3 linked regions of the Homo sapiens genome follow. The protein of the gene in region 2 interacts with the protein of the main gene of each other region in a pairwise test. Each region holds a gene or a part of one and is shown on either strand. Other genes may lie near its edges.

Region 1 (8,633 bases), on a different chromosome or scaffold from region 2:
CTGTACATAGGCTTCCACTGCAGCAGGGCTGTGGTACCAGTGGCATGGGCACCTATGAAGCGGGGAGCTGAGGCTGCAGTCAAAGCTCACACAGGAATGTCTGACAGTGGCGTTCTACCTGGGAATGAAGTGCTGCTGGAAATATTTTATGATACTCACAGCCTTGTACAATCAGGAGCCTTAGAAATATGCAGAAATGGGCTGTGGCTCGAGCTACTGGGTCCTGATCGTCTGAGGAAATCAGTTAGTACAAGAACATATGTGTCCTAGAGAAGCTTGGGCTGTCTCCTGAGACCTTCATTGCCTAGTATCTCTCTTTTTCTCTCCTTGTTTTCTTTATCTGTTTCTTTCTTTCTTTTTTTTTTTTTTTTGAGGCAGTCTCGCTGTGTCGTCCAGGCTGGAGTGCAGTGGTGCGAACTCGGCTCACTGCAAGCTCCACCTCCCGGGTTCACGCCATTCTCCTGCCTCAGCCTCCCGAGTAGCTGGTACTACAGGCGCCCACCATCACACCAGGCTAATTTTTTTTTTTTTTTTGCATTTTTTAGTAGAGACGGGGTTTCACTGTGTTAGCCAGGATGGTCTTGATCTCCTGACCTCATGATCCATCTGCCTCGGCCTCCCAAAGTGCTGGGATTACAGGCATGAACCACCGCGCCTGGCCTATCTGTTTCTGTCTTTCTCTTCCTCTCATTCTGTGTTTTTCACTCTCTAGGTTTGTTCTTTTCCTTTCACTTCTTTCTTTCCTTCCTTCCTTTTTCCCCTCTCCTTCATCCTCACTCTTTTCTGTTCTCACTTTTTGGGCTTTAAGGCTCTGCCTGCTAAGGTCTGCTGATTCTCCCCCTCTGATCATTCTTCATGGTTTTTCTTAGCTCTTCTTGACTTTGGCCTGAATCCTTTCATCCAAAGTGGGTGAATGTATTACTCTTAGGGAGCAACAAGTATGGATTTTTAACAACTGTTCTGTTGAGATTACTTTATCTGACCATGGAAAGGGTACTCACTGGGCAGCTGAGGACTTTAAGTCATTATCTTCTTCCACAAACCCAGAAGATGGGCAGCTTTCACCAGCAGCTCTGCCAAACGTTTATCTCAGCCATGGACCTGTACTTCCTCTTTGATGATGAAGGTTATTGTCTTTCTGATTATAGATTGAGGAAACTCGGCTTAACATTGACAAGATCTCAGAACATGTAGAGGAGGCTAAGAAACTCTACAGTATCATTCTCTCTGCACCGATTCCAGAGCCAAGTGAGTGTTTACTTAGAACTGAGTCATCCAACAATCACCCTTTCCTTGGAGCTGAGCCAGCCTTGTTTTCTTGCCCTTCGTGAGCAGTAGGGAAGTGTACAAGTTACAGGGCACTAGTGTACATATTATCTCATTTCCCTCCCCTTTACCTTACCTGAGCTCCTACTGCCTGGCCACAGTCAAGGTTTTGTCTTCATGGTCCCACTCCAACCATTTAGCTAGACTTTCCTGTTTCCCAGCTAGTCCCTCTTCCTGACTGGCGACGATTCCCACTGCTGCTTACATACCCTGTGCCCTGTCCCTCCTCTGAGCCTCTGCGTGTACTATTTCCCCAGCCTGAACTGCTTTTCCTAGCCCTCTTTCTGAATCCTACCAGATCAAGTCCATTTTTTCTTTCCATGAGGTGTTCCAAAATGGTTCGAGTTCACAGAAATTCCTTCTATCCCTAAACTCCTGTTTGTTACCACCACCTAGGCAAACGTTTTTTCTCCCCTAATTGTTTGCATGGGTGTCCAACCTTTTGGCTTCCCTGGGCCACATTGGAAGAAGAATTGTCTTGGGCCATACATAAAATACACTAACACTAACGATAGCTGAAGCGCTGAAAGAAAGGTTTGTGCATAATTTTCCTGATATCTGCCACTACAGATAAGCAAAAAAATCCGTGCGTTCCACGGTTTGGACACGGGTGGTTTAGGGCTATATTTTTGGTTCCTTAAGAACAGGGAACAAGCCTGACACTGTCATTCCACTCTTTCATTTTTCCCATGGGCCCTCTTACCTAAAGACTGAAGTGGGAACACTTTAGCAGAGCATATGGGCATTGTCTTGATCACATTCCTGCCTTCCCAGCCAGCCTGTCTCCTGCCATCCTCCTCCTGCTTCCCACGCTTCAGCCAGAGCAACTCTGTCTGGTTCCCCAGGCATTTCCTGTTCACTCATACCCTTTACTTACTGTTTCTTCTCGTGGAATTCCTGCTTTTAGTCTCTTTCTCTACCTGGCCAACTCACAGTCCTTGAGACTCAGTCCTGCTCATCTCCATCTTTAGAGGCTTTTCCAGATCCCTCCAGGCTGTGCACACCTTGACCAGAACTCATACCTTACTCCACGCTGCATATTAGAGCTGCTGATTTATTTCTCCTTTGTCTCCCACTAGACTCTAACACCTTGCAGGAAAAATCTAGATCTTCTTTCTGATTCCATAGTTTCTAGCTCTGTTCCAAAGTTGTAGTAGGGGCTGAAGGATGGCTTTTGAATGAATGGTTATAGCTAACACTTAGTTTGCTCCATACAACCTAGGATGTGTGTAGTAGGTATGTCATAAATATTTGCCTCATTTTAAGTTGATTAGCCTTGGTTGAAATCTATTTTCCCCATAAGCTCCCTAGAACCTTCTCAACCGAAGCTCCCGTGGTAGGCTCTTTCCTCTAAAAGCAGAGTTTCCACAATTTTATGTGCTGCAGGATTACTCAGGAGGGTTGAAAGAGCTGATTTTGTGGTTCCAACCCTGGGTATTTTTATTCTGTAGACTGAGATGGGGTGCCTGGAAAATGCCTTTAAAAAAATAAGCACTCTGTGATTCTAATGACAGATGCTGGGGAGTGCGTAGGGATAAATACCATTCTGGGCAGTGGATGCCCGATAAAGCTCCCCTCCTCTGATGATGATTGCTGTAGTTCACAAAGGAATCAGTCCTCTCCTTTCTAACGGATTCTGCCTGCCTTTATTTACCCAGAAACCAAGGATGACCTAGAGCAGCTCACGACTGAGATTAAGAAAAGGGCCAACAACGTCCGGAACAAACTGAAGAGTAAGAAGGGAACAAAGAAAACAAGGCCGTCCCCACCACCATCTATCTCAGCTCCCCTAGGGTCCAGCTTTCCGAACTGAAACTCCTCTTGATGGAAGTGACACCACTTGGTCCATCTTTGCTTGTGGTTTGGGCTCTGTCCCCGCAATGATCCATTGTAGCCCCAGAAATTTACCTTTTCTTAAATCCTGACTGTACTGGAAAGAGTCCAGAATTGAAGCTAGGAGATGAGAATTAAAATGTGCTTTCAGCTGCTGAGTAGTTTTGTGACTTGGTCCTTTAACTTAGTCTTTCAACTTGTCTCTCTTTTTTTTTTTTTGAGACGGAGTCTCACTCTGTCCCCCAGGCTGGAGTGCAGTGGTGTGATCTCGGCTTATTGCAACCTCTACCTCCTGGGTTCAGGTGATTCTCCTGCCTCAGCCTCCTGAGTAACTGGGACGCACCTGGCCCATCAACTTTTCTCTTATTGGTCTTATTTCCCTGGCAACTACATACTTTTTTTTTTTTTTTTAAGACAGAATCTTGCTCTGTTGCCCAGGCCAGAAGGCAGTGGCTCAATTTTGGCTCACTGCAATCTCTGCTTCTTGGGTTCAAGTGATTCTCATCCCTCAGCCTCCCAAGTTGTTGGGATTACAGGCATGCACCACCACGCTCAGTCAATTTTTGTATTTTTAGTAGAGACGAGGTTTCGCCATGTTGGCCAGGCTGGTCTCGAACTTTTCTGGCCTCAAGTGATCCACCTGCCTGGGCCTCCCAAATCGCTGGGATTCCAAGTTTGAGCCACAATGCCCGGCCACCTACATACATTTGAATAGTCATTTTAGAGATATATAAATGCAAGAGATATCATTCAGTCTACAGATATTTCTTGGTGGGCTAGGCATACCACCTTCCCATACCCTCACTCCCCCCATTTGGGAGAGTATAGTTCAATGAAGCTACTGTCATAGATTCAGTTCTTCCAGAGCCTAGAAGGTTTACTTAGTTCTGTTGCTAGAGCCTGCATTCTTGCCCAGTGTATTTGGTGCATGCATGCTATTGATCAGAAGAGAAAGCATTATTGCTCAGCTCAATTTACCATTTCTTCCCCCCAAGTATATTGCAATAACTATTTTAACTGGAGGAGTCATTAGTAGCAGATTCCAGTAATAACAGTGATAGTGCACCTGCCATTGTGCTAGGCACTTTATGTGTCTTCTCATTTAATCTTCACATTAGTATTGTGAGGGAGGGACTGTTATTCTGTTTTACAGATGAGAGAACAGGTACATTAAGAGGGGTTAAGTGGCTTTTTCAAAGTCACACCCAGTAAGTGCCAGGGCAAGGATTCAAGCCTAAGTCTCATGGTGACCAGAACCCATGCTGTTAACTGTTATGCCAAAACCTGGTCATCGTAAAGGCTGTGGAATGCACGTCCTGTGGCTCATCTGGGAGCTGACCTTTTGAGGTGACACCTACCTGTTACATCTCCGTGGGCTGGATGTGTGGGAATGAGTGAGGAAGTTTCACTGAATAGCATGTTTCTTGGAGGCGGAGATAGGTTGCAAGTATAACCTTCCTCTCCTCTTTAGGCATGGAGAAGCATATTGAAGAAGATGAGGTCAGGTCATCGGCAGACCTTCGGATTCGGAAATCCCAGGTAAGACTTTTCCTGGTCTCATGATTAGCTAGTCCAATCTCTTATTGTTTTCCCTTAACTGTGGAGGGATTTTTTTTTTTTAATACAATCCTTATTTTGAAACTCAATTTGAAGACCTGGTAAAGGAGAACTCTCCAGGTTGAAATAGGGGTCAGGGCCAGAGTCCAGCCCTTTTGGCTCCTCTCCTGTACTCTCCTTCTCTAAGGAGGCCCCTGAAGAGCTTTTCAGGCTTCCTAGAGCACAGCTTAGGATTTAGCGTGCCTTCTTGTTTTACAGGAGAGGAAATTAATGTCTTCTAACAATTGTTAGTCATTGGTTGTCCAGTTTGGAGCTAGGCACTTTAGGGGTCATCAAAGATAGGATCCTTGTCCTTAAAGAACTGGCATGCCATTGAAGCGGCATGGAAAGCTATTACCTAAGACCCAGCAGGAGGATGCGACCCAGCAGGAGGATGCGATAAGAAGACACATGCATGGTGCTCTCAGCATCAAAAGATCTCAGGAAGAATGGGGGGTAGCCAGAGGAGGCTGGGCCAGAGTGCCAACATGAGCAGCCTCAGGAAGTAGTTTCCCCTCTCTGAGAGGCACAGGGGCAGGAGTGAGGCACGCACATATGTGTGTGTTGGCAGCAGTGGTTGGTAGTGGTGGTGGGTAGACGTAAGGGGCAGACGTGAAGACAATAGGCTTTCTGTAGAAAAAAGTTTGCTGTGGGATAGTGGACACATAATTTTTAGTAGATAATGTAGTGCCACATTCTAGAGGTCTTTGAGGACCAGTCTGGGGAATTTGGATCTGATGTTATAACTTACAGGCATTTGCTTCAGGCGGCAGTATATTAGGAGGATTATTATGGTAGCCATTTGAAAGCCGTTTACAAGTGGGAAAGAAGCAGGAAACTGGAAGGTCCCTAGTTAGGTTTTTGCAAGGGTTTTGGTCTAAATTTGTATGGTGGTAGTGGGTTTGGAAAAAGTATATATATTGGCGATTTTCCAAAGGAGAAACCAGTAAGTAGGGCTTGATGCTGAGAGGTGAGCAAGGAATAAAAATTATTAGGAAGGTTTTAGCTTAGGCATGCAGGGCTGTTGAGATAATGCATCTACTTATAAGCAAGAAGAGTTGGGGAGATGAGTTTAGCGTAAGAACTCAAGGATCTTTGGTAAGTATGACATGTGGGAAGGGAATCTGACAGTTTTAGAATGCAAGCCAAGTGTTGTGCCAGAAAAATGCTACTAGTCCATGTGGATGTAGGGCTCAGAGATTTAGAGATGACCTCTGGCCTCGCAATTACCACGTGAGGTCAGCAGTAAACCGGTTTCAGTAAACTGGTGCTGAAACCATGCTCTGGAAAGGGCAGTGGACTCTCCCAGTGGCACAAAGCTAGGAAACAAAAAACTTGGTTTGACACCTGGTTTTTTGATTCCAAGTCCAGTGCTATTGTAGATGGCTATGTGGGGGTGGGGAGGGGTTCTATAACAGTTACAGAACCACTGGGGCCTGACTGCATTTTACATCATCCCACAGCACTCTGTCCTTTCTCGGAAGTTTGTGGAGGTGATGACCAAATACAATGAAGCTCAAGTGGACTTCCGAGAACGCAGCAAAGGGCGAATCCAGCGGCAGCTCGAAATTAGTATGTACTTGAGGTTTGGCGTGTGCCCTCCACCTTTCCTGCCACCTGGTTGTCCATCCCAAGTTTTGAGGCCCTGGTGGAGCAAGCAGGAAGCACATTTTGTGCCTAAGTCTAGGGCAGCTCCTGCACCACTGGCACATCCCGAATGCTGTGCTGTAGGCTGAAAGGTGACACCGTGTTTATCAGGCCCAAGTAATTTTATTGTATGGGGTCCAGCATTGTCTCCTATATAGAGGGGAAATGCTTGCCAAACAGTTGCTCTCTTGTGGACTCATTGTATCATTTTGCTGTCTGTTTGACAGCAAAGCACATTTAAGAAATAAAAAGTGTGGTGTAAGTTGCTGGGAGGATAAAAGTATGGTGTAAGTTGCTGGGAGGATTAGAGAAATAAATAAAGCCATACCCTTTAGGAATGTAGTAATGTGGAAGGCAGGGCCCCGTGGAGTGGAAGGTGCTTTGGATGAGAGGAATGGTATGAACATAATCAAGAAAGAGCAAGTGTGTTTAGGAGTGGCAGGTTGTCTAGGGTCTGGAGAAAGGGTGTGTCTGGAGTAGCATAAGGTTAGGATGGATTGAGGGAGGGCTTGCCCATGAACTAGCATGTTATGAGGGCCTTGGACACCATAGTGTAGTGAATGGGGCAAGGAAATGTTCTGAGCTGGGAAGCAATGTAATGAGATAAGTGCTTTAGGAAGGTAACTGCTGATAGTGTTAAGGATGGCTTGGATTAGGGCAGAAATAAGATGAGTCAGGAGGCAATTGGGGGAGTGTTGTAAAGGCCACGGTCTTTATAGGGAAGTCACGTTCCTAATTTTCAGGGTCCTTATCAGATGGTGTTTCACCGTGATCTTATATTTGACGCTCTACTTCTTTTGTTACAAAGCTGGCAAAAAGACAACCGATGAGGAGCTGGAGGAGATGTTGGAGAGTGGCAACCCGGCCATCTTCACTTCTGGGGTGAGTGCCCTGTGTGCTCGGATAGCACATCCCTCTCGTGAGCAGGGAGGCCACTGCGGAGCTCATGCAGTCCAGCAGGTGGAGGGGGAGCTGCAGGTGCAGGGAGTTCAGGGAGGCAAGGAGCTCCCCAGGAGCGTGCATGAGGGCTGTGGCAGGGGCAGCCTTTCTTGCAGGGGTAGCTAACAGTCTGTGTGTGGCCTGTTGTAGATCATTGACTCACAGATTTCCAAGCAAGCCCTCAGTGAGATTGAGGGACGACACAAGGACATTGTGAGGCTGGAGAGCAGCATCAAGGAGCTTCACGACATGTTTATGGACATCGCCATGCTGGTGGAGAATCAGGTAAGTGGCAGTGAGTCCCAGCGTGGGGAGGGAGGAGAGGAAAGCTCAGGGTCTACTGAGAACAGGGAGAAAGGGAATACTGGAAGCCAGTGAGGTAGGGTGGGAGAACCATTGGGAATTTGCATAAAGGAGAAACAGAATCCCATGGGAAAGTGTGCATTCAAATTGAATGTTGACACTTTGGGTGATCTTAACCTTGTCATTCTTGCCTGTCCCTTTGGCCTTGCAGTCGTTGCTAGTTGATACAGGGTTTGATGTGTTCTGTCAAGTACCCAGTTTTCCTGGATTTTTGATTTTTTTTTTTTTTTTAAGATGGAGTATTGCTCTGTTGCACAGGCTGGAGTGCAGTGGCGTGATCACAGCTCACTGCAGCTTGACCTCCCAGGATCAAGCAATCCTCCCAGGATTTGTCTTTTTTTCTTTCTTAAAAATCAGAGATCCGGGCTCCTAATGGTGACGTTTTAAAACAGCCTCCTGATATGGACTAGTTCACTGATGACATTGAAAATGTGATCTTTTCTCTAGTTCACAGGGAAGACTCAGGTTTAACATAAATTTTTATTTTTTTCCATTTTTTTTCTGTTTGTATTTTTTTTTAATTTTGGCACCTTTTGCTAAGGCACAGAGCAGACAACAACATGAATGAAGGAGTAGCAAAATAGCATTGACAGAAAGACTCGAAACACTCGTGGTGCTAGTTTGACAGCTTACTTTGTCCCAGGCATGCTTGCTCGGGATAGAATTCTGGATTGCCTGCATAGGGCGCTAGTTTCGCATAGTTAGATGGTTCCTAGTTCTTATGGGACAGTTAAGTGTGCCACAGGGTCATGGTGCTGTGCACTGTTGCCATGAACTTCCAGCTGCTCTGACACTTGGGATAGGAGAGAAAATTGCTTCCATAGTAGGCAGACTGCACAACCTAGTTGAAGCTCGAGCACAGCTTGACTAGTTTTTGACATTGGTTCCCTGCCGAGGGCCTGGATGCTTTCCCCCCATTCCCTACTGGC
Region 2 (6,744 bases):
ATGCCTTAGCACTCTAAAAGACACTCTCACCAGCACCATTACAGTTTACAAATGCCATGGCAATGTCAGGAAGTTGCACTATATGGCCTAAAAATGGGAGGAATCCTCAGTTCCTGGAATTGCCCACCCCTTTTTGGAGAACGCATGGATAATCCACCCCTCGTTTAGCATATAATCAGGAAATGACCATAAAAGTGGCCAGCCAGCAGCCCTCTGGGCTCCTCTGCATATGGAGGAGTCATTCTTTTGTTTCTTTACTTCTCTAATAAACTTGCTTTCATTTTATGGATTCACCTCAAATTCTTTCTTGCATGAGATCCAAAACCCTCTTTTGGGGTCTGGGTCCAGACCCCTTTCCAGTAACACTTTGTTTGTAATATGAGCTCTTTGTAACTGATTCACTAGAATAAATGACATGGGATTTTCTACAGAGATATTTGAGGTCTTTACCTAGGACAAAGTAAGTACTTTTTTTAAAAAAAATAAGCTTGGCTGGAATAAAAGATTTTTTTCTGGTTTTGTGTTAAGCCTGACATCTATGGGTTGGGCTTCTTTTAAGTGATTCAAGTTCTCCATTATTAATTGGTCAGAAAGTCAGCAATGACTGTTCCAAACTTCAGTTTTCAATGCTCTGCATTTTGAATGACTTCTGCCTTCCTGGTTGGCTAATTGGGGGCTTTCTCCATTCTGTCTGAAAAAGGACTTTTCCTGCAAATGGTGCATCAATTGAGGGAAACCTTATCTGGGGCTTACCTTAATGAGGGTCTCCTCAAATATTTCTCTGAGGGTAATGTATGAGTTAGGAGTAAGTGGGCTACTGTGTTTCTTTTTTAGTGTGTTTTGTTTATACTTATTTTAACTTTTAAATTCAGAGGTACATGTGTAGGTTTGTTATATAGGTAAACTTGTGTCATGGGAGTTCGTTGTACAGATTATTTCATCACCCAGGTATTAAGCCTAGTACCCATTAGTTATTTTTTCTGGTTCTCTCCCTCCTCCCACCCTTCACCCTCTGATAGGTCCCAGTGTCTGTTGTTCCCCTCTATGTATCTTTTTTCAGGTGACATGCATCTGGAGAATAGTACACATAGCCTTCAGTGTAAGAAAAAGCAAACCAGAGTTCACTTCACCCTTAGGCACATAAGAAAAGTTCTTTCTTTTTCCTTTCATCACAATGGCAGAGTGAAAGGCAAAAGATGTGTGAGGCTGAGTAGAGACTGAATGTGATTAAGTGTCACTAGACTGGTCAGCTTTCTATCTAAAAGCCATTGCAGCTAATTTCCCAATTCATATTCATGTAGGAACATAAGACAGAAATACCGAACACATGGAAGGGGCTGTTCAGAAGGTGAGATGTTACAGAGAAGTCTACATACCACGCATACCAATCAACCTGAGTGAACAAACATCACTATACCCCTATGAAATTAGATGTATAGAAACTTCCTTAGAGTAGTCTGAAACTTTAGGGTTTGTCAACATTGTTTAACAAAGCCACAATTTAGGAAAAAAAACCAACAATTATATGCATATACTTTTAATGAAGGATATAGGAAGATAAAGCTGGCCAGCATTTGTCAATATTTCTGCACCAAGACACATGGTTTTAAGAATACTATATACAATCATTTTGAGCAGATTGGTGGGAAAAATAATTGTAGCAGATTGGCAACCTATGCTTAACTTCTGAGGTCTCCTTTTCTGGCACTCTAATATAGTTCATATATTACCAAGACCCACTGCCAGCTTTCCTTTTATGTTCCTTCACTGATTAAGCCAGCAGAGTGAAAGTAATTATTCCTTGAATGCATCTTATCTAATTTTTTTTTCCTTTAATGCCATTCCCTACTAACAATCTATTTCCTGGTATATTGAATTCATTGTTGGTTTTAACTCATTCTGCTGATGGCTGTGTACCATCCTGCTACAAAGAACACATTTAATGGTTTTGAACACTGTGCAGGACACAGACCTAACCCTTTTAGGGAAGTAAACAGTCATGGGTTGCATGCTACTAGGAGCCACCCATTCATTATTATATAATACCCGCATGCAAAAGGCTACAATTTAATATGGTACATTACAGCTATGGTTAAAGAAATGCAGATGTACCATACCTCATCAACCAATTCCTAACGAGATGGAACTCATTAATTTTCTAAGAATATGGATCTTGTCCAAGGGCCTGACAATCTCATTAGATGCCCCCTGTGCTTCTCCATAGAACGTCTTCTGTACCGAATCTCTTAGCTACTCTGAGAGCAGAGATTCTGGAATGTATAAATCTAATGTTCTTCACATGCTGTGTTTCTTAGACTCTTTTTCTAAAAGGAGAAAACAGATAATCATTCTTTTAAATTAAAGTATTTGCTCCTGCTGAAGAGGCAGCCTGCTTTGGAGAAAATGTGTATGTGTGTGTGTGTGTGTGTGTGTGTGTGTGTACATGTGCATACATGTATGTAGATATGTGTGATGAGAGGTGAAAAGAATAGGCTTTCAATGACTGTTACATTCCTATGAATTTGGGCCCTGTTAAATTAATTTTAGGTTCATGTTACAATAATGTATAATATTCAGTATTCTTAAAACTTACTTGCTAGGATTGTGCTTAAATCTCCATTAACCTCAATGTCTATACTTTGTGCAATTTGGTATAAACATGGAGTGCATTCTTTACCTTGGCAATGTCTGCCCTGAGATTGGGCTCTATGGTGCCACAGGAGGTAATGGCACTGGTTGATGCCACATAGTGTGAAAAATATGTGTCACATGGGGCTAGTAGGGGAAAGAGGCACATATTGCATTCTTATCACATAGAAAGTAAGAGTTGTACAAATTGCATACTTTTCAGATTTTTGACAAAATGTGACTCTTTCAGAATGTGATCCTGTTGTAATTACTCTCAAAATTCTAACTGCTCCATGATAATTCCAGTCCTGGGAAGCCAAGTTACTTTAACAATGTACTGAACATGGTAACTGTGAGCCCTGCATAAGACAGCTGTGTTCCATTGGGGACCACTTAATCTCTTTTCCCCTTAATTTTTCCAGCTGTACCATGGGGAACAATTTTTTTATTCTGTCTCTTTCTGAGGACGCTGTTGGAGTGAATGGAAGAACATTAACAAAGTGCTCTAAGTCCTGCAAGAACAAATCAGCAATGAGAGCATGGACAAAAGAATGGAGTACATTATTTTGCTTAGAAATACTGTATGGTTAAGCTTTTCATTCCAGTCCTATAATTAAAGACATATAAGAGCACTAGAAAGTGACATAGCACCCTTCAGCAGTAGGATCCTAACAATGAGTATCTTCATTTTGCAAACGGAGAAAATGAGTATCAACAATTAGGGAATGAGATTCCACAGAGGTTATTGGACAGGGATCCAAAGAAAAGCAAGCAAAGAAGCCAGATCAGGGTGTGCTAATTATTAAATAAAGTTCTGTATTCTTGATTAATAATCAACCAGTTGGGTACCTATGTACATTAGTCAATACTCAAATGATCCATGGATAGGGATATTATCAGAGTCTATAAACCAATGAGACCAAAATGCTAAGATAGGAATAGGTTTTCTTTTTATCTCTGAGCCCCTGGTAAAACCCTGATTTATTTGGCTTTTTTTTTTTTTTTTTTTTTTTTTGAGACAGAGTTTCACTCTTATTGCCCAGGCCGGAGTGCAATGGCACGATCTCAGCTCACCACAACCTCTACCTCCCAGGTTCAAGCGATTCTCCTGCCTCAGCCTCCTGAGTAGCTGGGATTACAGTCATGCACCAACACTCCTGGCTAATTTTTGTATTTTTAGTAGAGACAGGGTTTCTCCATGTTGGTCAGGCTGGTCTTGAACTCCCGACCTCAGGTGGTCCGGCCGCCTTGGGCTCCCAAAATGTTGGGATTACAGGTGTGAGCCACTGCGCCCAGCCTTATTTGGCCTTTTAAAGACAGTGTAAATCTGTAAGACATTAAACAATCAGCTTTGCATTACATCTTTCCTGAGCTTTACCTCTCCGGAACTTCCTTATAGTTAACTGACACTATATTTTGTGACTTGACTTCTGTGGGAGCTGAGTGCTGATACACCCTATGCATCAAAGAAGTTCTTGATGTTTTTCTGACTTTGAATCACAGTTAACAGCTGCTCTGCCTGAATGCTTGGCAGAAGATGATTGATGGGAAAGAGGAAGATTACTTTGAGGCCTACTTGCTGTGTAGTAAGTAAAGGCCATACATGTAGAAAAAGGTGCATATCTATATGAATAGAAGACAAGGCTTGTCTGTCATAAAACCATGGGAATGGCCAAATAAGGTTTCAGGAAAAACCGAAATGAGAGTATTTTGAGAAAGAGTGTAAGGGGAAATTTTTTTCCATCTGAATATATAAGAAGATTTCATCTTGAAACCCAGTGTGTGCATAGTCATCTAGGCTGCTTTTTAGCTTCTGAGTTTGAGAAAGTCACTAGCCCTAATAAGTGTAGTCATGTCTAGTATTCTCTCAAATGTAATGCTGACCACAATCCATTTAATTTATGCCAAAAGTCTCACCTTGGTCAAAATTACCTAGGGATCCAGATGAACAGGTTTTGTTGTTGCTTTAAGTAGCTGGATTGTTCACTTTCTCAGCTCCACTGGAACCCCAACACTAAATTGTGGCAGGCAACTCTTTTTTACTCAAACATATTTCAGGGAAGATAAATTAGTAAGCCAAACCATCCCTCTAGAAGCTCAATTCCTTGATACCTGTAAGATGCTTCTAAATTCCACTGATCTCTAAAAGAGTTGGAGCTTTTATTGTCAGCAGCTGGGCACTAGACTGCTGGATGAAAAAATGAAAGATATCAATACTCTTAAGATATTATTATTGTAAAGAATCAGTACTAGTATTCTCACTCATTGATTCAGGCACTAGGACTAAAAGAAAGGCTGATTATAAATAAATGGGGAAATTGATGCAAACTGTATTAATGGCTTAGCTACTACTGAAGCTAAAAAAAGAAGAAAGAACTGGCATATTACTATTTGGTTATCACTGTCTGTACAATAGCCCCTGCTATGAAAACACAGCTCTTTAGTGCTAATCCTCAGGCTAATGTCAGCTGTGAAACTTTACCCTTATGAAAGGCAGTGAAATTAAACCTGAAAATCACTCTGAAAACCCTTAACAAAACCTATGGGCCATAACTTAGGCTTATAGATTTTCTTTCATCATAAAATAACTCATAAAGGCTAAAATAAAACTAGGAAGCAGATAAATGAATAAAAGTAATTGGAGAATTTTACTGCACCCTGACAAAAAAGTCTTTAAAAAACACTGGTTATTATGTTCAATAAAGTTTATGTCCTGAATTTGATCTTCTTGAGTAGCTGTGGTGCTTTCAGGAACATTTGTGACAGAACAGGTTTTACATTGTTGTTCAAATTCCAATTTGAGGACCTTGGTCACAGTGTACTGATTCACCCTCCCAAATTTTAGATACTTGATATAGCGATGATTCAAAGTCTAGCAAATATTTAAGTTGCTATTTAGAGGAAAAGCATAATTAAACAAAGGCTTCAGGTTTTTAGCCCTGATTTTCACACTATAGCAGAATTTTGTATAGATATGCTGTACGTGTTCACAAATGCACACGCACACAAGCAGCAAATGTAGTTTGATTCCCTTCAACACCAAAAAGGCCCTATATATGTGATTAATAATCTTTGTGGGGGAATTAAAGACTCTAAGGAAATTTTCTGAATTTCCTTTTACCTGATAAGATGAATGAAAAGATATATTTTACATTTAGGCTTTCATGGATTGGGGGAGGGGAAATGAAGAAACAAAAAAAATTGGCTTGAATTAACTGCTACCAAATTCCAAATTGGATTTCAGTCAGTAAATTAAATAACATAAAGTCCAGAAACATTTACACAGCAAGTATTTGATGGAATTCTTTCAAATTTTGAAGCTTTCAATCCAACACGGTGACTTATTTTGAAGATTACAATGATTTCCAACATTGAACTCTGTAAGCCTCATGGGAGGCAGAGATGGTGAGTCCTGGGAATGAAGAGAAGAAATTCACAGATGAGCTGAACAACTGTAAATATTCATGTGGTAACACCCACTTGACAATAATATGCAACCATTAAAATTACATTTATGAAGAGTATAGATCAGCACTGAAAAATGTTAAGTGAAAAAGGCAGGATATAAAATTATATATACAATGCTATATTTTTGACCCCCAAAATTACATTTGGAATAAGAGACTGAGGAAATACACTGAACTATTGAAAGTGGTGGATTCATGGGTAATTTGTTTTCATTTCTCTACCTTCTACTTGCATTTTCCACATTTTCTTTAGTAAATATATAATTTGATACTTCAAAAATACTATTTTTGAAATCCACATGGAAATAACAAGAGCTTTGAAATTGGGCAATTATGAAGCTGAATTCTAGCTTTGCCTCTTATCTCCATAACTCTAGAAAAATAATGTCAATGGATCCTAGTTTACTCATCTGTAAAACTGGTATAATATAATCTTCCTGAAACAATATCTGGCATATAGTAGGCCCTCAAGTAGCTATTTGTTTAAGCTTTCCGGAAAATGATTTGGCCTTATCCATTGACCCTTTAAAAAATTCATACCAGTAATTTTGCTTCCAGGATTCTATCCTATGGAAATGATTATAAATGAGGAGAAAGATTTATGTTTAGTGATATTATTCACAACATTATGATGATGGAAAATTGGATA
Region 3 (7,604 bases), about 73 Mb from region 2:
TTTGTCATGAGGTCCCTAGTTGTGGTTACTTGTTACAGCAGGCCTGGAAAACTGATCAATGTCATAACCTGCAATGGGCTGTCTGAACACACAGCCATCTCATGGGACCATCTACATCATCTTCACACAGAGACCTAAGCCCCATGGGAAGCTTGGCAGATGTGATGTTGGGGCCTCTACAGATCCAGATGTGGGGGTTTAGTCAGGCTGGTGGGGAAAATTTTAGTTATAGTAGACACAAACCCTCTGGGAAGGCCTGAGCGTTTGTATAACTTCAGTAATAAACCTGGCTGAAGGCAGCCTAGTCCCCTTACCTTTAGTTAAATAAATTAGAGTAGAAGCAAAGGAATGTGGGGAATGTCTCTAACTAACTTGTTTACTCATGTGGTCCTAAGACTAACCTTTTATGTATCGCAGGTGCTTCATTGCTTTCTACTTAGGGAAGTCCGCAATGTCAATTTCCCTCTAGTGGTGTTGACTCACAACCTTTGTCAATTAATCTTTACTGAATAAATGCAAGTCTTGCTGACTGATCGAGGCCACGGCTGCTACTAAGTGGCTTGGATGCTCAGCCAAACTGGCAAAGCAGAATAGCTGTGTGTCAATGTACTTCATTCACCCATCACTTGGTCAGGGTCTGTGGGACAGACCCCTGCACCATAAATCTTGTTGCAAGTTTTCACCGTTGGGCTTCACGTCTCCCTGCAGCACCATGAATCCAGCTACACTAGGGAGGTGAATATCATGCATGTTTCCTGCAAGTTTCATTGTTCCTTGTAACCTCTGGCAACCTCTCCTTCCCGGAGGCTGTTTCCTGGCCTGTTAGTCTGGTTGTATCATTCATGGTTTTCCTATGAAGGGTCTCAGGATATAAGCAGACATTCTGCACAGAGACTGCATCTTTCTGCAGAAGGGGCTTGAGCTCATTCTTTCTGCACTGAGAGTCCTGGGTATTGAGGTCTGAGCTCTGCCCGAAACAGAAGCATACCGATTGTTAGGGTCACCCCAACCAGACCGTTCCCTTCCCCTTCCACAGGCCTTACAATACAGTCCCTTGCACTCTCCACACAGCTCCCCCAGGGCTAAAGACAAACGCCCCCCGCCTTCACTGACCCCTCCAGTAACTGTTTGTCCAGACAGTTACAGGATGTGGTTAGCATGTCTGTGAACCTTGCATAACAAAGCTGGTGAAAAACATCTCCAGGATGCGGTCAAGACACTTGCACCCCCTACTCAGCTCCCCCACCCCAACCCAATCCTCCTGCACCCTCGACTCAGCTCCCCCACCCCGACCTGGTTCTGGCCCTATAAAACCCTGCTATAGTCTGTAAGTGGGGCTGCCTCCACTAACTGTGGTGGAGCAGCCAAGCAGCTCAGTAAAGTTTGCTTGCCTGACTTTAGGTCTCCTCATCCTCTCTCTCGGCTGACCTTACACCGATGATGTAGTAAGCATCTAACGTGAATATCCCAGGGAACAAATCCACATTTCTTATCCTTTTGTACCAAGGAAGGTCCCCTGTCTAGTGGGTCCATGACATAAAATTCCTGGTTTTCTGTAAAGGAACAACAGAAATCCAGGCATCCTGGTTATCTACCAAGGAAAATCACCATCTGTGGTGACAAACCCATTCCCGGAGGATGAATGATTTTTTTTTTAAAGAGGCCAAACAATACATTTATTATTTTCATTTAAGTTGCTTATCAGGGCAACCTTCCCCATCTGGGAACAATCTAGCAGTCATGTAAGAAGCACATGCCCCCACAATTAGTTTGAACTCCATCCTGGAATTGCAGCTGGTTGTGATTCTAAGGTACAGGCATGCCAGGAGCCTGGATTTGAATAGTCAGTGGGATTTTGTCACTTAGTGGAATGGATAATAAGCCAACCAATGGTCATCAGTCTCACACATAAGGAGTGCAGGCTCGTAGGGTATACACAGTACTTTCTCAAAAGCATTGCAAATGACTGATTTCTCTATGTTGAAATTTGAAAACCCAACATCTATCTCTCTAACACCAAAGGATTGAGCCTTCCTTGCCTGGCTGGTGAGTAAGAGTGAGCCTCTATACCAAGGATGTACCCTTTGGCTGTGTGAGGTTTTCAGAAGTATCAGAAGCTGTATACATTTCCTGTGGTTGCTGTAACAAGTGACTACCAATTTGTTGGAGCCTTAAAACAAGAAAGATTTATTCTCTCTCCGTTCTGGGGACCAGAAGTCTAAAGTCAAGACGTCAGAGGGGCCAAGATTGCTCTGAGGGGTATAAGGGAGAATCCTTCCTGCCTGTCCCAGCTCCTGGTGGCTCCAGGCATTGCTTGGCTTGTGGTGGCATCACTCCAGTCTCTGTCTGCATCATCACACGAATATCTTGTCTTCTGTACTCAAATCTCCCTCTACCTGTCTCTGATAAGAACCCTCGTGATGGCATTAGGTTCACTGGGATGATCCATAATGACCCATCTCAAAATTCTTAATTCTATCTGCAAAGATTCTTTTCCAAATAAAGTAATATTTATAGGTTCTGAGGGTTAGGGCATGAACATATCTTTTGAGGGCTACCATTTGATCCATAGCTGTTCAGCGGTTTACATTCTCGGATTTGACAGTGGCATGCTTCACTTGTGACTGTGCCATTCTGGAATGAGGTTGACCAGATGGTGCTGCTGGCCACGTCAAACTCATCCTACAGGCTGTAGCAAGCAAGGCTCACACCTCCCCATGTCTGACACCTGTGAATCACAGCTGGGTCTCTGGAAAAATGAGTGAGTGCAGGAACAAAATCAAACAGGAGACCTCATCCACCACTAGGTCTCAGAGAGGACATTGCAGCCCCTGAAAAGAGAGCATCTCTCTTGGAACTTTTGTACTCAGTTGTATTAACGCGGCAAGGAAAATGGCACATTTATGTTGGAAAATGTAATTATTTATGGCACCTGTGACAACTGGGCACTTTGGAATCACAAAGTTTATGGTTGAAGACCACTTGGGGTGATTATCCTCCAAAATGTTTATTTGGCTTCTTGAAGTTCTGCAGAGGTTGAGGCAGCTGTCTCAAAACTAGAGGACAGAGCCCTGTGGGCAGGTGGGTGTGAGAAACTCAAACACCGCAGTCTTCACAGACCCACAAGCTATTGGCAGGTGCAATGTGTTTCTTGGGGCAGCAGCTATCCTGAGACAGGATATCACAGGGTCACATCAAGGACCCCAGTCATCTCACAACTCTTAGACCACAGCTGCTGCTGCAGTTTCTGGTTGTAGGTGACGTGGAGGGACTTGGTCTCTTTCTCGTTGTATAGGTAATGGCCACCAACTCCTTCCAGCTCTGGGGTGACTGCTGCGTAGATGGAAGTCCACGCTCCTTCATCGGGGGTCTGGTGGAAGAAGAAAAGAAGGCTACGATGAGTCAAATTTCTGAGCAGGAAACAGGAGTCTCAGGACTCACATGGATGCTGCAGGGACAGGTGGAATATACTCATCAGCTGCACTGAGAAATGTATGCAAAAAGCGAGGTTGGGTGATCAATCTGAACCACAGCTTTTCTGCTGTTGGGTTTCTTTACAACAGGCACTGACAATAACGTACCCAAGTGGGTTGCATTTCAGTGGTGGGTTAATCCATCTCACTAGGCAGATGCATATTAAAATCCCTGATGTACGTATTTAATCACGCACTCTTTATGGGACCGAAATGCTTATTAATTGACTAGAAGCAGATGAGTGAGTGCTTGGCTTCTGTATTTAATAAACAATATTTAGCAATTAGATGAAACATCAGGACATCAAAAAGATTCTTGTTTTCAATTCAGCAAGGCATGCTACATCGGAGAATTGAGGCATTTATGAGCTGTGATCGTATGTTTCATGGAAACAGACGTTTCAAAAAGGAACTTGAGATGCAGAAAAAGGTTTTTCAAAGACTGGGGATTTTACCCTAGTGGAAGGCGATAATCTTGAAACACAGCACACCCTGGTTTTCTGCAGTGGGAGTTGGCCCTTGGTCATGGTCAGTGGGATGGAAGAAATGTAGGATTCTCAGAGGAATTAGAAGTTGTGGGACCTGAGAACCTTCAGAGCTAGGATGCAATAATCCAGGAACCAACACAGTGCATCTTAACTTCTGTCACAATGAAGATGTTTCAGAAGTTGTCTCTTGTAATAAGCTTCTGGGAATCTGGTGAACGTATCCACCATGTGGGGACACAGTAATGAGGCACCGTCTGTGAACCAGAAAGCAGGTCCCTTCCAGACACAGAATCTGCCATGCATTGATCTTGAACTTCCAGCCTCCAGAACTGTGAGCAACAAATGTTTACCGGTTGCCCAGCCTATGTTGTTTTGTGATAGCAACACAAACAGACTAAGACATTTGATGTCCAGAGTTTTTACTGGGGTCTCATTGCATAGGTATGATTAAGTCATTGGCCACATAATCAGATTCAACCTCCAGTTCCTCTTTCCTCCCCAGAGGTCAGGCTGGCCTGAAATTCCAACCTCCTAATGACATGGTTGGTGTTTCTGGTGGCCAGCCCCATCTTGAAGCCATTTAGGAAACAGCAAATATCACCTCATTATACAACCAGGGAATTGCTAGCATTTGTGAAATTGCGAGAGTTTTAGAAGCTCCTCCTTGTTACAGAACCAGGAATAAAGACCAGATATTGCCTTTGTTATGTCCCCTCTAGTCTTCTGGGAGTGATGATCCATTTGCCCGAACTGATTTCACCTCTCACCAGTGCCCCTAGCACTGCAGTGGCTCAGGCCTGTAATCCCAGTGCTTTGGGAGAACAAGGCAGGAGGACTGCTTGAGTCCAGGAGTTCAAGATGAGTGTGGGCCACATGGCAAAACCTAGCACTGGTGAGAGTTCAGGCACACACCCTCCAAAAAGGAAAAGGGTGGACTCTGTGGGGTGGCCTGTGACACCCAGTCACTTCAGAAATTCTGCTGCTGTCAGTTCACTGCCTCCTGGTCTTGACTTCAGCAGCCAGTGTGACGTGGAAAGGCATGGTAGACAATCCAGTGTGCCCACCAGCCCATCCTCTGGGTGCCGAGCAAGGGGAACAGGAAGGCTGGACCCCAGTAGAGGAACAGAGCTGCCAGACTCCTGAGATTGTTTCCCACTGACTTGCCTCTGCTCTTCTGCTGCCTAAAAAGAAATGGATGGAGCTAGAGAACTTCCCAAGTCTGGAAATCACCTAGGGGTGCCCAGAGATCTTGCAAACCCAAAGTGTCCTGGGAGATTTGGAGGCTGATACGGTTTGGCTGTGTCCCCACCCAAATTTCATCTTGAACTGTAGCTCCCATAATTCCCATGTGTCAAGGGAGGGAGCCAGTGGGAGGTAATTGAATCATGGGAGATCTTTCTCGTGCTGTTCTCATGATAATGAATAAGTCCCATGACATCTGATGGTTTTATAAAAGGCCGCTCCCCTGCACACACTCTCTTGCCTGCTGCCATGTAAGACATGCCTTTGCTCCTCCTTCACCTTCCGCCATGATTGTCAGGCCTCCCCAGCCACATGGAACTGAGTCCATTAAGCCTCTTTCCTCTATAAATCACCCAGTCTTGGGCATGTCTTTATTAGCAGCATGAGAACAGACTAATAGAGAGACTGTATCTGAAAACATCTCGGGGGCGGATGCAGGCGCCATGGCTTGGCTCTTGCAGGGGAGCCCTGTGTCCCGTGTCTTGCCCTGGGCATCTAAAGACCAAAAGTAAAGGCGAAAGGGATGGAAAGAGGAAGGGAGGAAGGACAGAACAGAGCAGGAGGAAAGGGAGAGGGAAGGCAGGGGCCAAGTGAAGGCACCCATGGTGTTTGAGGGTCTTTCTCTGGGGCAGCCTTCAACGCAGAAAGAGGTTTTATTGATCTGTTTCATGCTTCTCTCTTTTGCGGCTGTGTTCTGCCCAATTTCCAGGCAGGATCTGCTCCCAAAGCCGGCATTCTTCTTCCTTCTCCATCATCTTGTAGCTGGAAAATACGGAGTCTTTCTGGGGCCCAGCCCACTTCCATATAAAAGGCAGGGACACCAAGCACTGCAGCTGTGAATCCAACATGGTGCCCCTTCCCACACTGCTGCTCTGGACAAAGTGATCAGAGAGGCCAGATGGGGGCCACCCTGGGTCCCCAGGAGAGACCATGGTTCCTGCTGCGCAGAAATGAGCATTTACACCTCACGCTGGTGCCTGAGATGTTCACCCACACTGTGTTATATTTAGTGCTGTGCCTTCTTTGCAAACAAATCCTTAAATCAGCTCCTGGAACAAGTTTTGTGTTGTTGTCTGCCATCATTGACACTGAGGATTCAGGGGCTCATGCCCCAAATACCCGACCTGTGTCTTGACCATGTAGTATGATGCCTCCACCCGGAGAGGCCCCTGTGTTCTGCAGCTGCAGCTTAGGCCGCTCCTGGGTTCTCCTGCATCGTCCCTATTGTTGAACAAACTCAGCACTCTCTGGAAGGAGGCTTCCTCTTTGTGGTTCCCCTGTGGGCAGTGTCTGGGGGCTTCTGTTTCTACCATATTTTGAAAAATCCTCTTATCTGAGTAAGAGTTCTTGGGCTATGCATATTCAATTGCGACACAAGTACTACCGTTTTAGGGGGCAAGATACCACCTGTGCTATGTTGAAAATGAGCTTGTGATTTCTAGAAGACAGCAAGCGCATTGTGCTGAAAATGTAGGTATTTCTGGGGACACAGAGATGACGACGTGATGAAGTTCTATTGGATGATTTTTTTTCTGTAAGAAAAACACACGCACACACATATTCATGTGCGCATGGTCACTTACATGCTGACATGCACACATACATTCGTATGTACTCACATGCACACAAATATATATACACATATGGACACACACATACTCATGCATACGCACACACACATGCACACTTACTTGCACATGCATACTCACACTCATTCACATGCACACATGCTCATTTACATGTACACAAACTCACATGAACACATGCTCACATATACTCATTCACATGCACACAAATTCGCATGCACACAGCTCACACGCACACATGCTCACACTCGCACACACACACGTACACACACATTCACATGCACTCATTCACATGTACACAGCTCACACACATGCTCACATTCACATGCACACTAATTCACATGCACACACACATGCTCACACTCATTCACATGCACACAGCTCACATTCACACATGCATTCACATTTACATATTCACATGCACTCACATGCTCACTCATTCACATGCACACAGCTCACACACATGCACACACTCATTCACATGCACTCATTCACATGTACACACATTCACATGCACTCACACACGCACACAGCTCACACATGCACACATTTGCATGCACATTCACATGTACACACATTCACATGCAGTCACACATGCTCACACTCATTCACATGCACACAGCTCACACACATGCACTTTCACATGTACACACATTCACATGCACACATACACATGCACGCACCCTCATTCACAAGTACGCACATACACATGCACACATGCTCACACTCATTCACATGCACACATGCTCATCCACGTGTACATTCACATACTCATTCACATGCATACTTATACACATGCAAACATGCTTATATAT

What was found. Proteins that work in one complex are often made in the same cells at the same time.
Region 1: the proteins of ZDHHC15 (region 2) and STX3 interact in binary tests that used the Homo sapiens proteins (3 or more experiments, as listed by UniProt).
Region 3: the proteins of ZDHHC15 (region 2) and DHRSX interact in binary tests that used the Homo sapiens proteins (3 or more experiments, as listed by UniProt).

Annotation. Positions count from the first base shown.
Region 1 is NC_000011.10:59,785,889-59,794,521, forward strand, and holds part of STX3 (syntaxin-3), read left to right. Parts: intron 1-1,148; coding exon 1,149-1,248; intron 1,249-2,984; coding exon 2,985-3,059; intron 3,060-4,630; coding exon 4,631-4,698; intron 4,699-6,218; coding exon 6,219-6,327; intron 6,328-7,210; coding exon 7,211-7,284; intron 7,285-7,491; coding exon 7,492-7,626; intron 7,627-8,633. UniProt on the Homo sapiens protein: Potentially involved in docking of synaptic vesicles at presynaptic active zones. Apical receptor involved in membrane fusion of apical vesicles.
Region 2 is NC_000023.11:75,366,906-75,373,649, forward strand, and holds the end of ZDHHC15 (palmitoyltransferase ZDHHC15), read right to left. Parts: intron 6,041-6,744; 3' UTR 1,522-6,040; downstream 1-1,521. UniProt on the Homo sapiens protein: Palmitoyltransferase that catalyzes the addition of palmitate onto various protein substrates.
Region 3 is NC_000023.11:2,217,860-2,225,463, forward strand, and holds the end of DHRSX (polyprenol dehydrogenase), read right to left. Parts: intron 3,371-7,604; coding exon 3,182-3,370; 3' UTR 1,647-3,181; downstream 1-1,646. UniProt on the Homo sapiens protein: Oxidoreductase that plays a key role in early steps of protein N-linked glycosylation by mediating two non-consecutive steps in dolichol biosynthesis.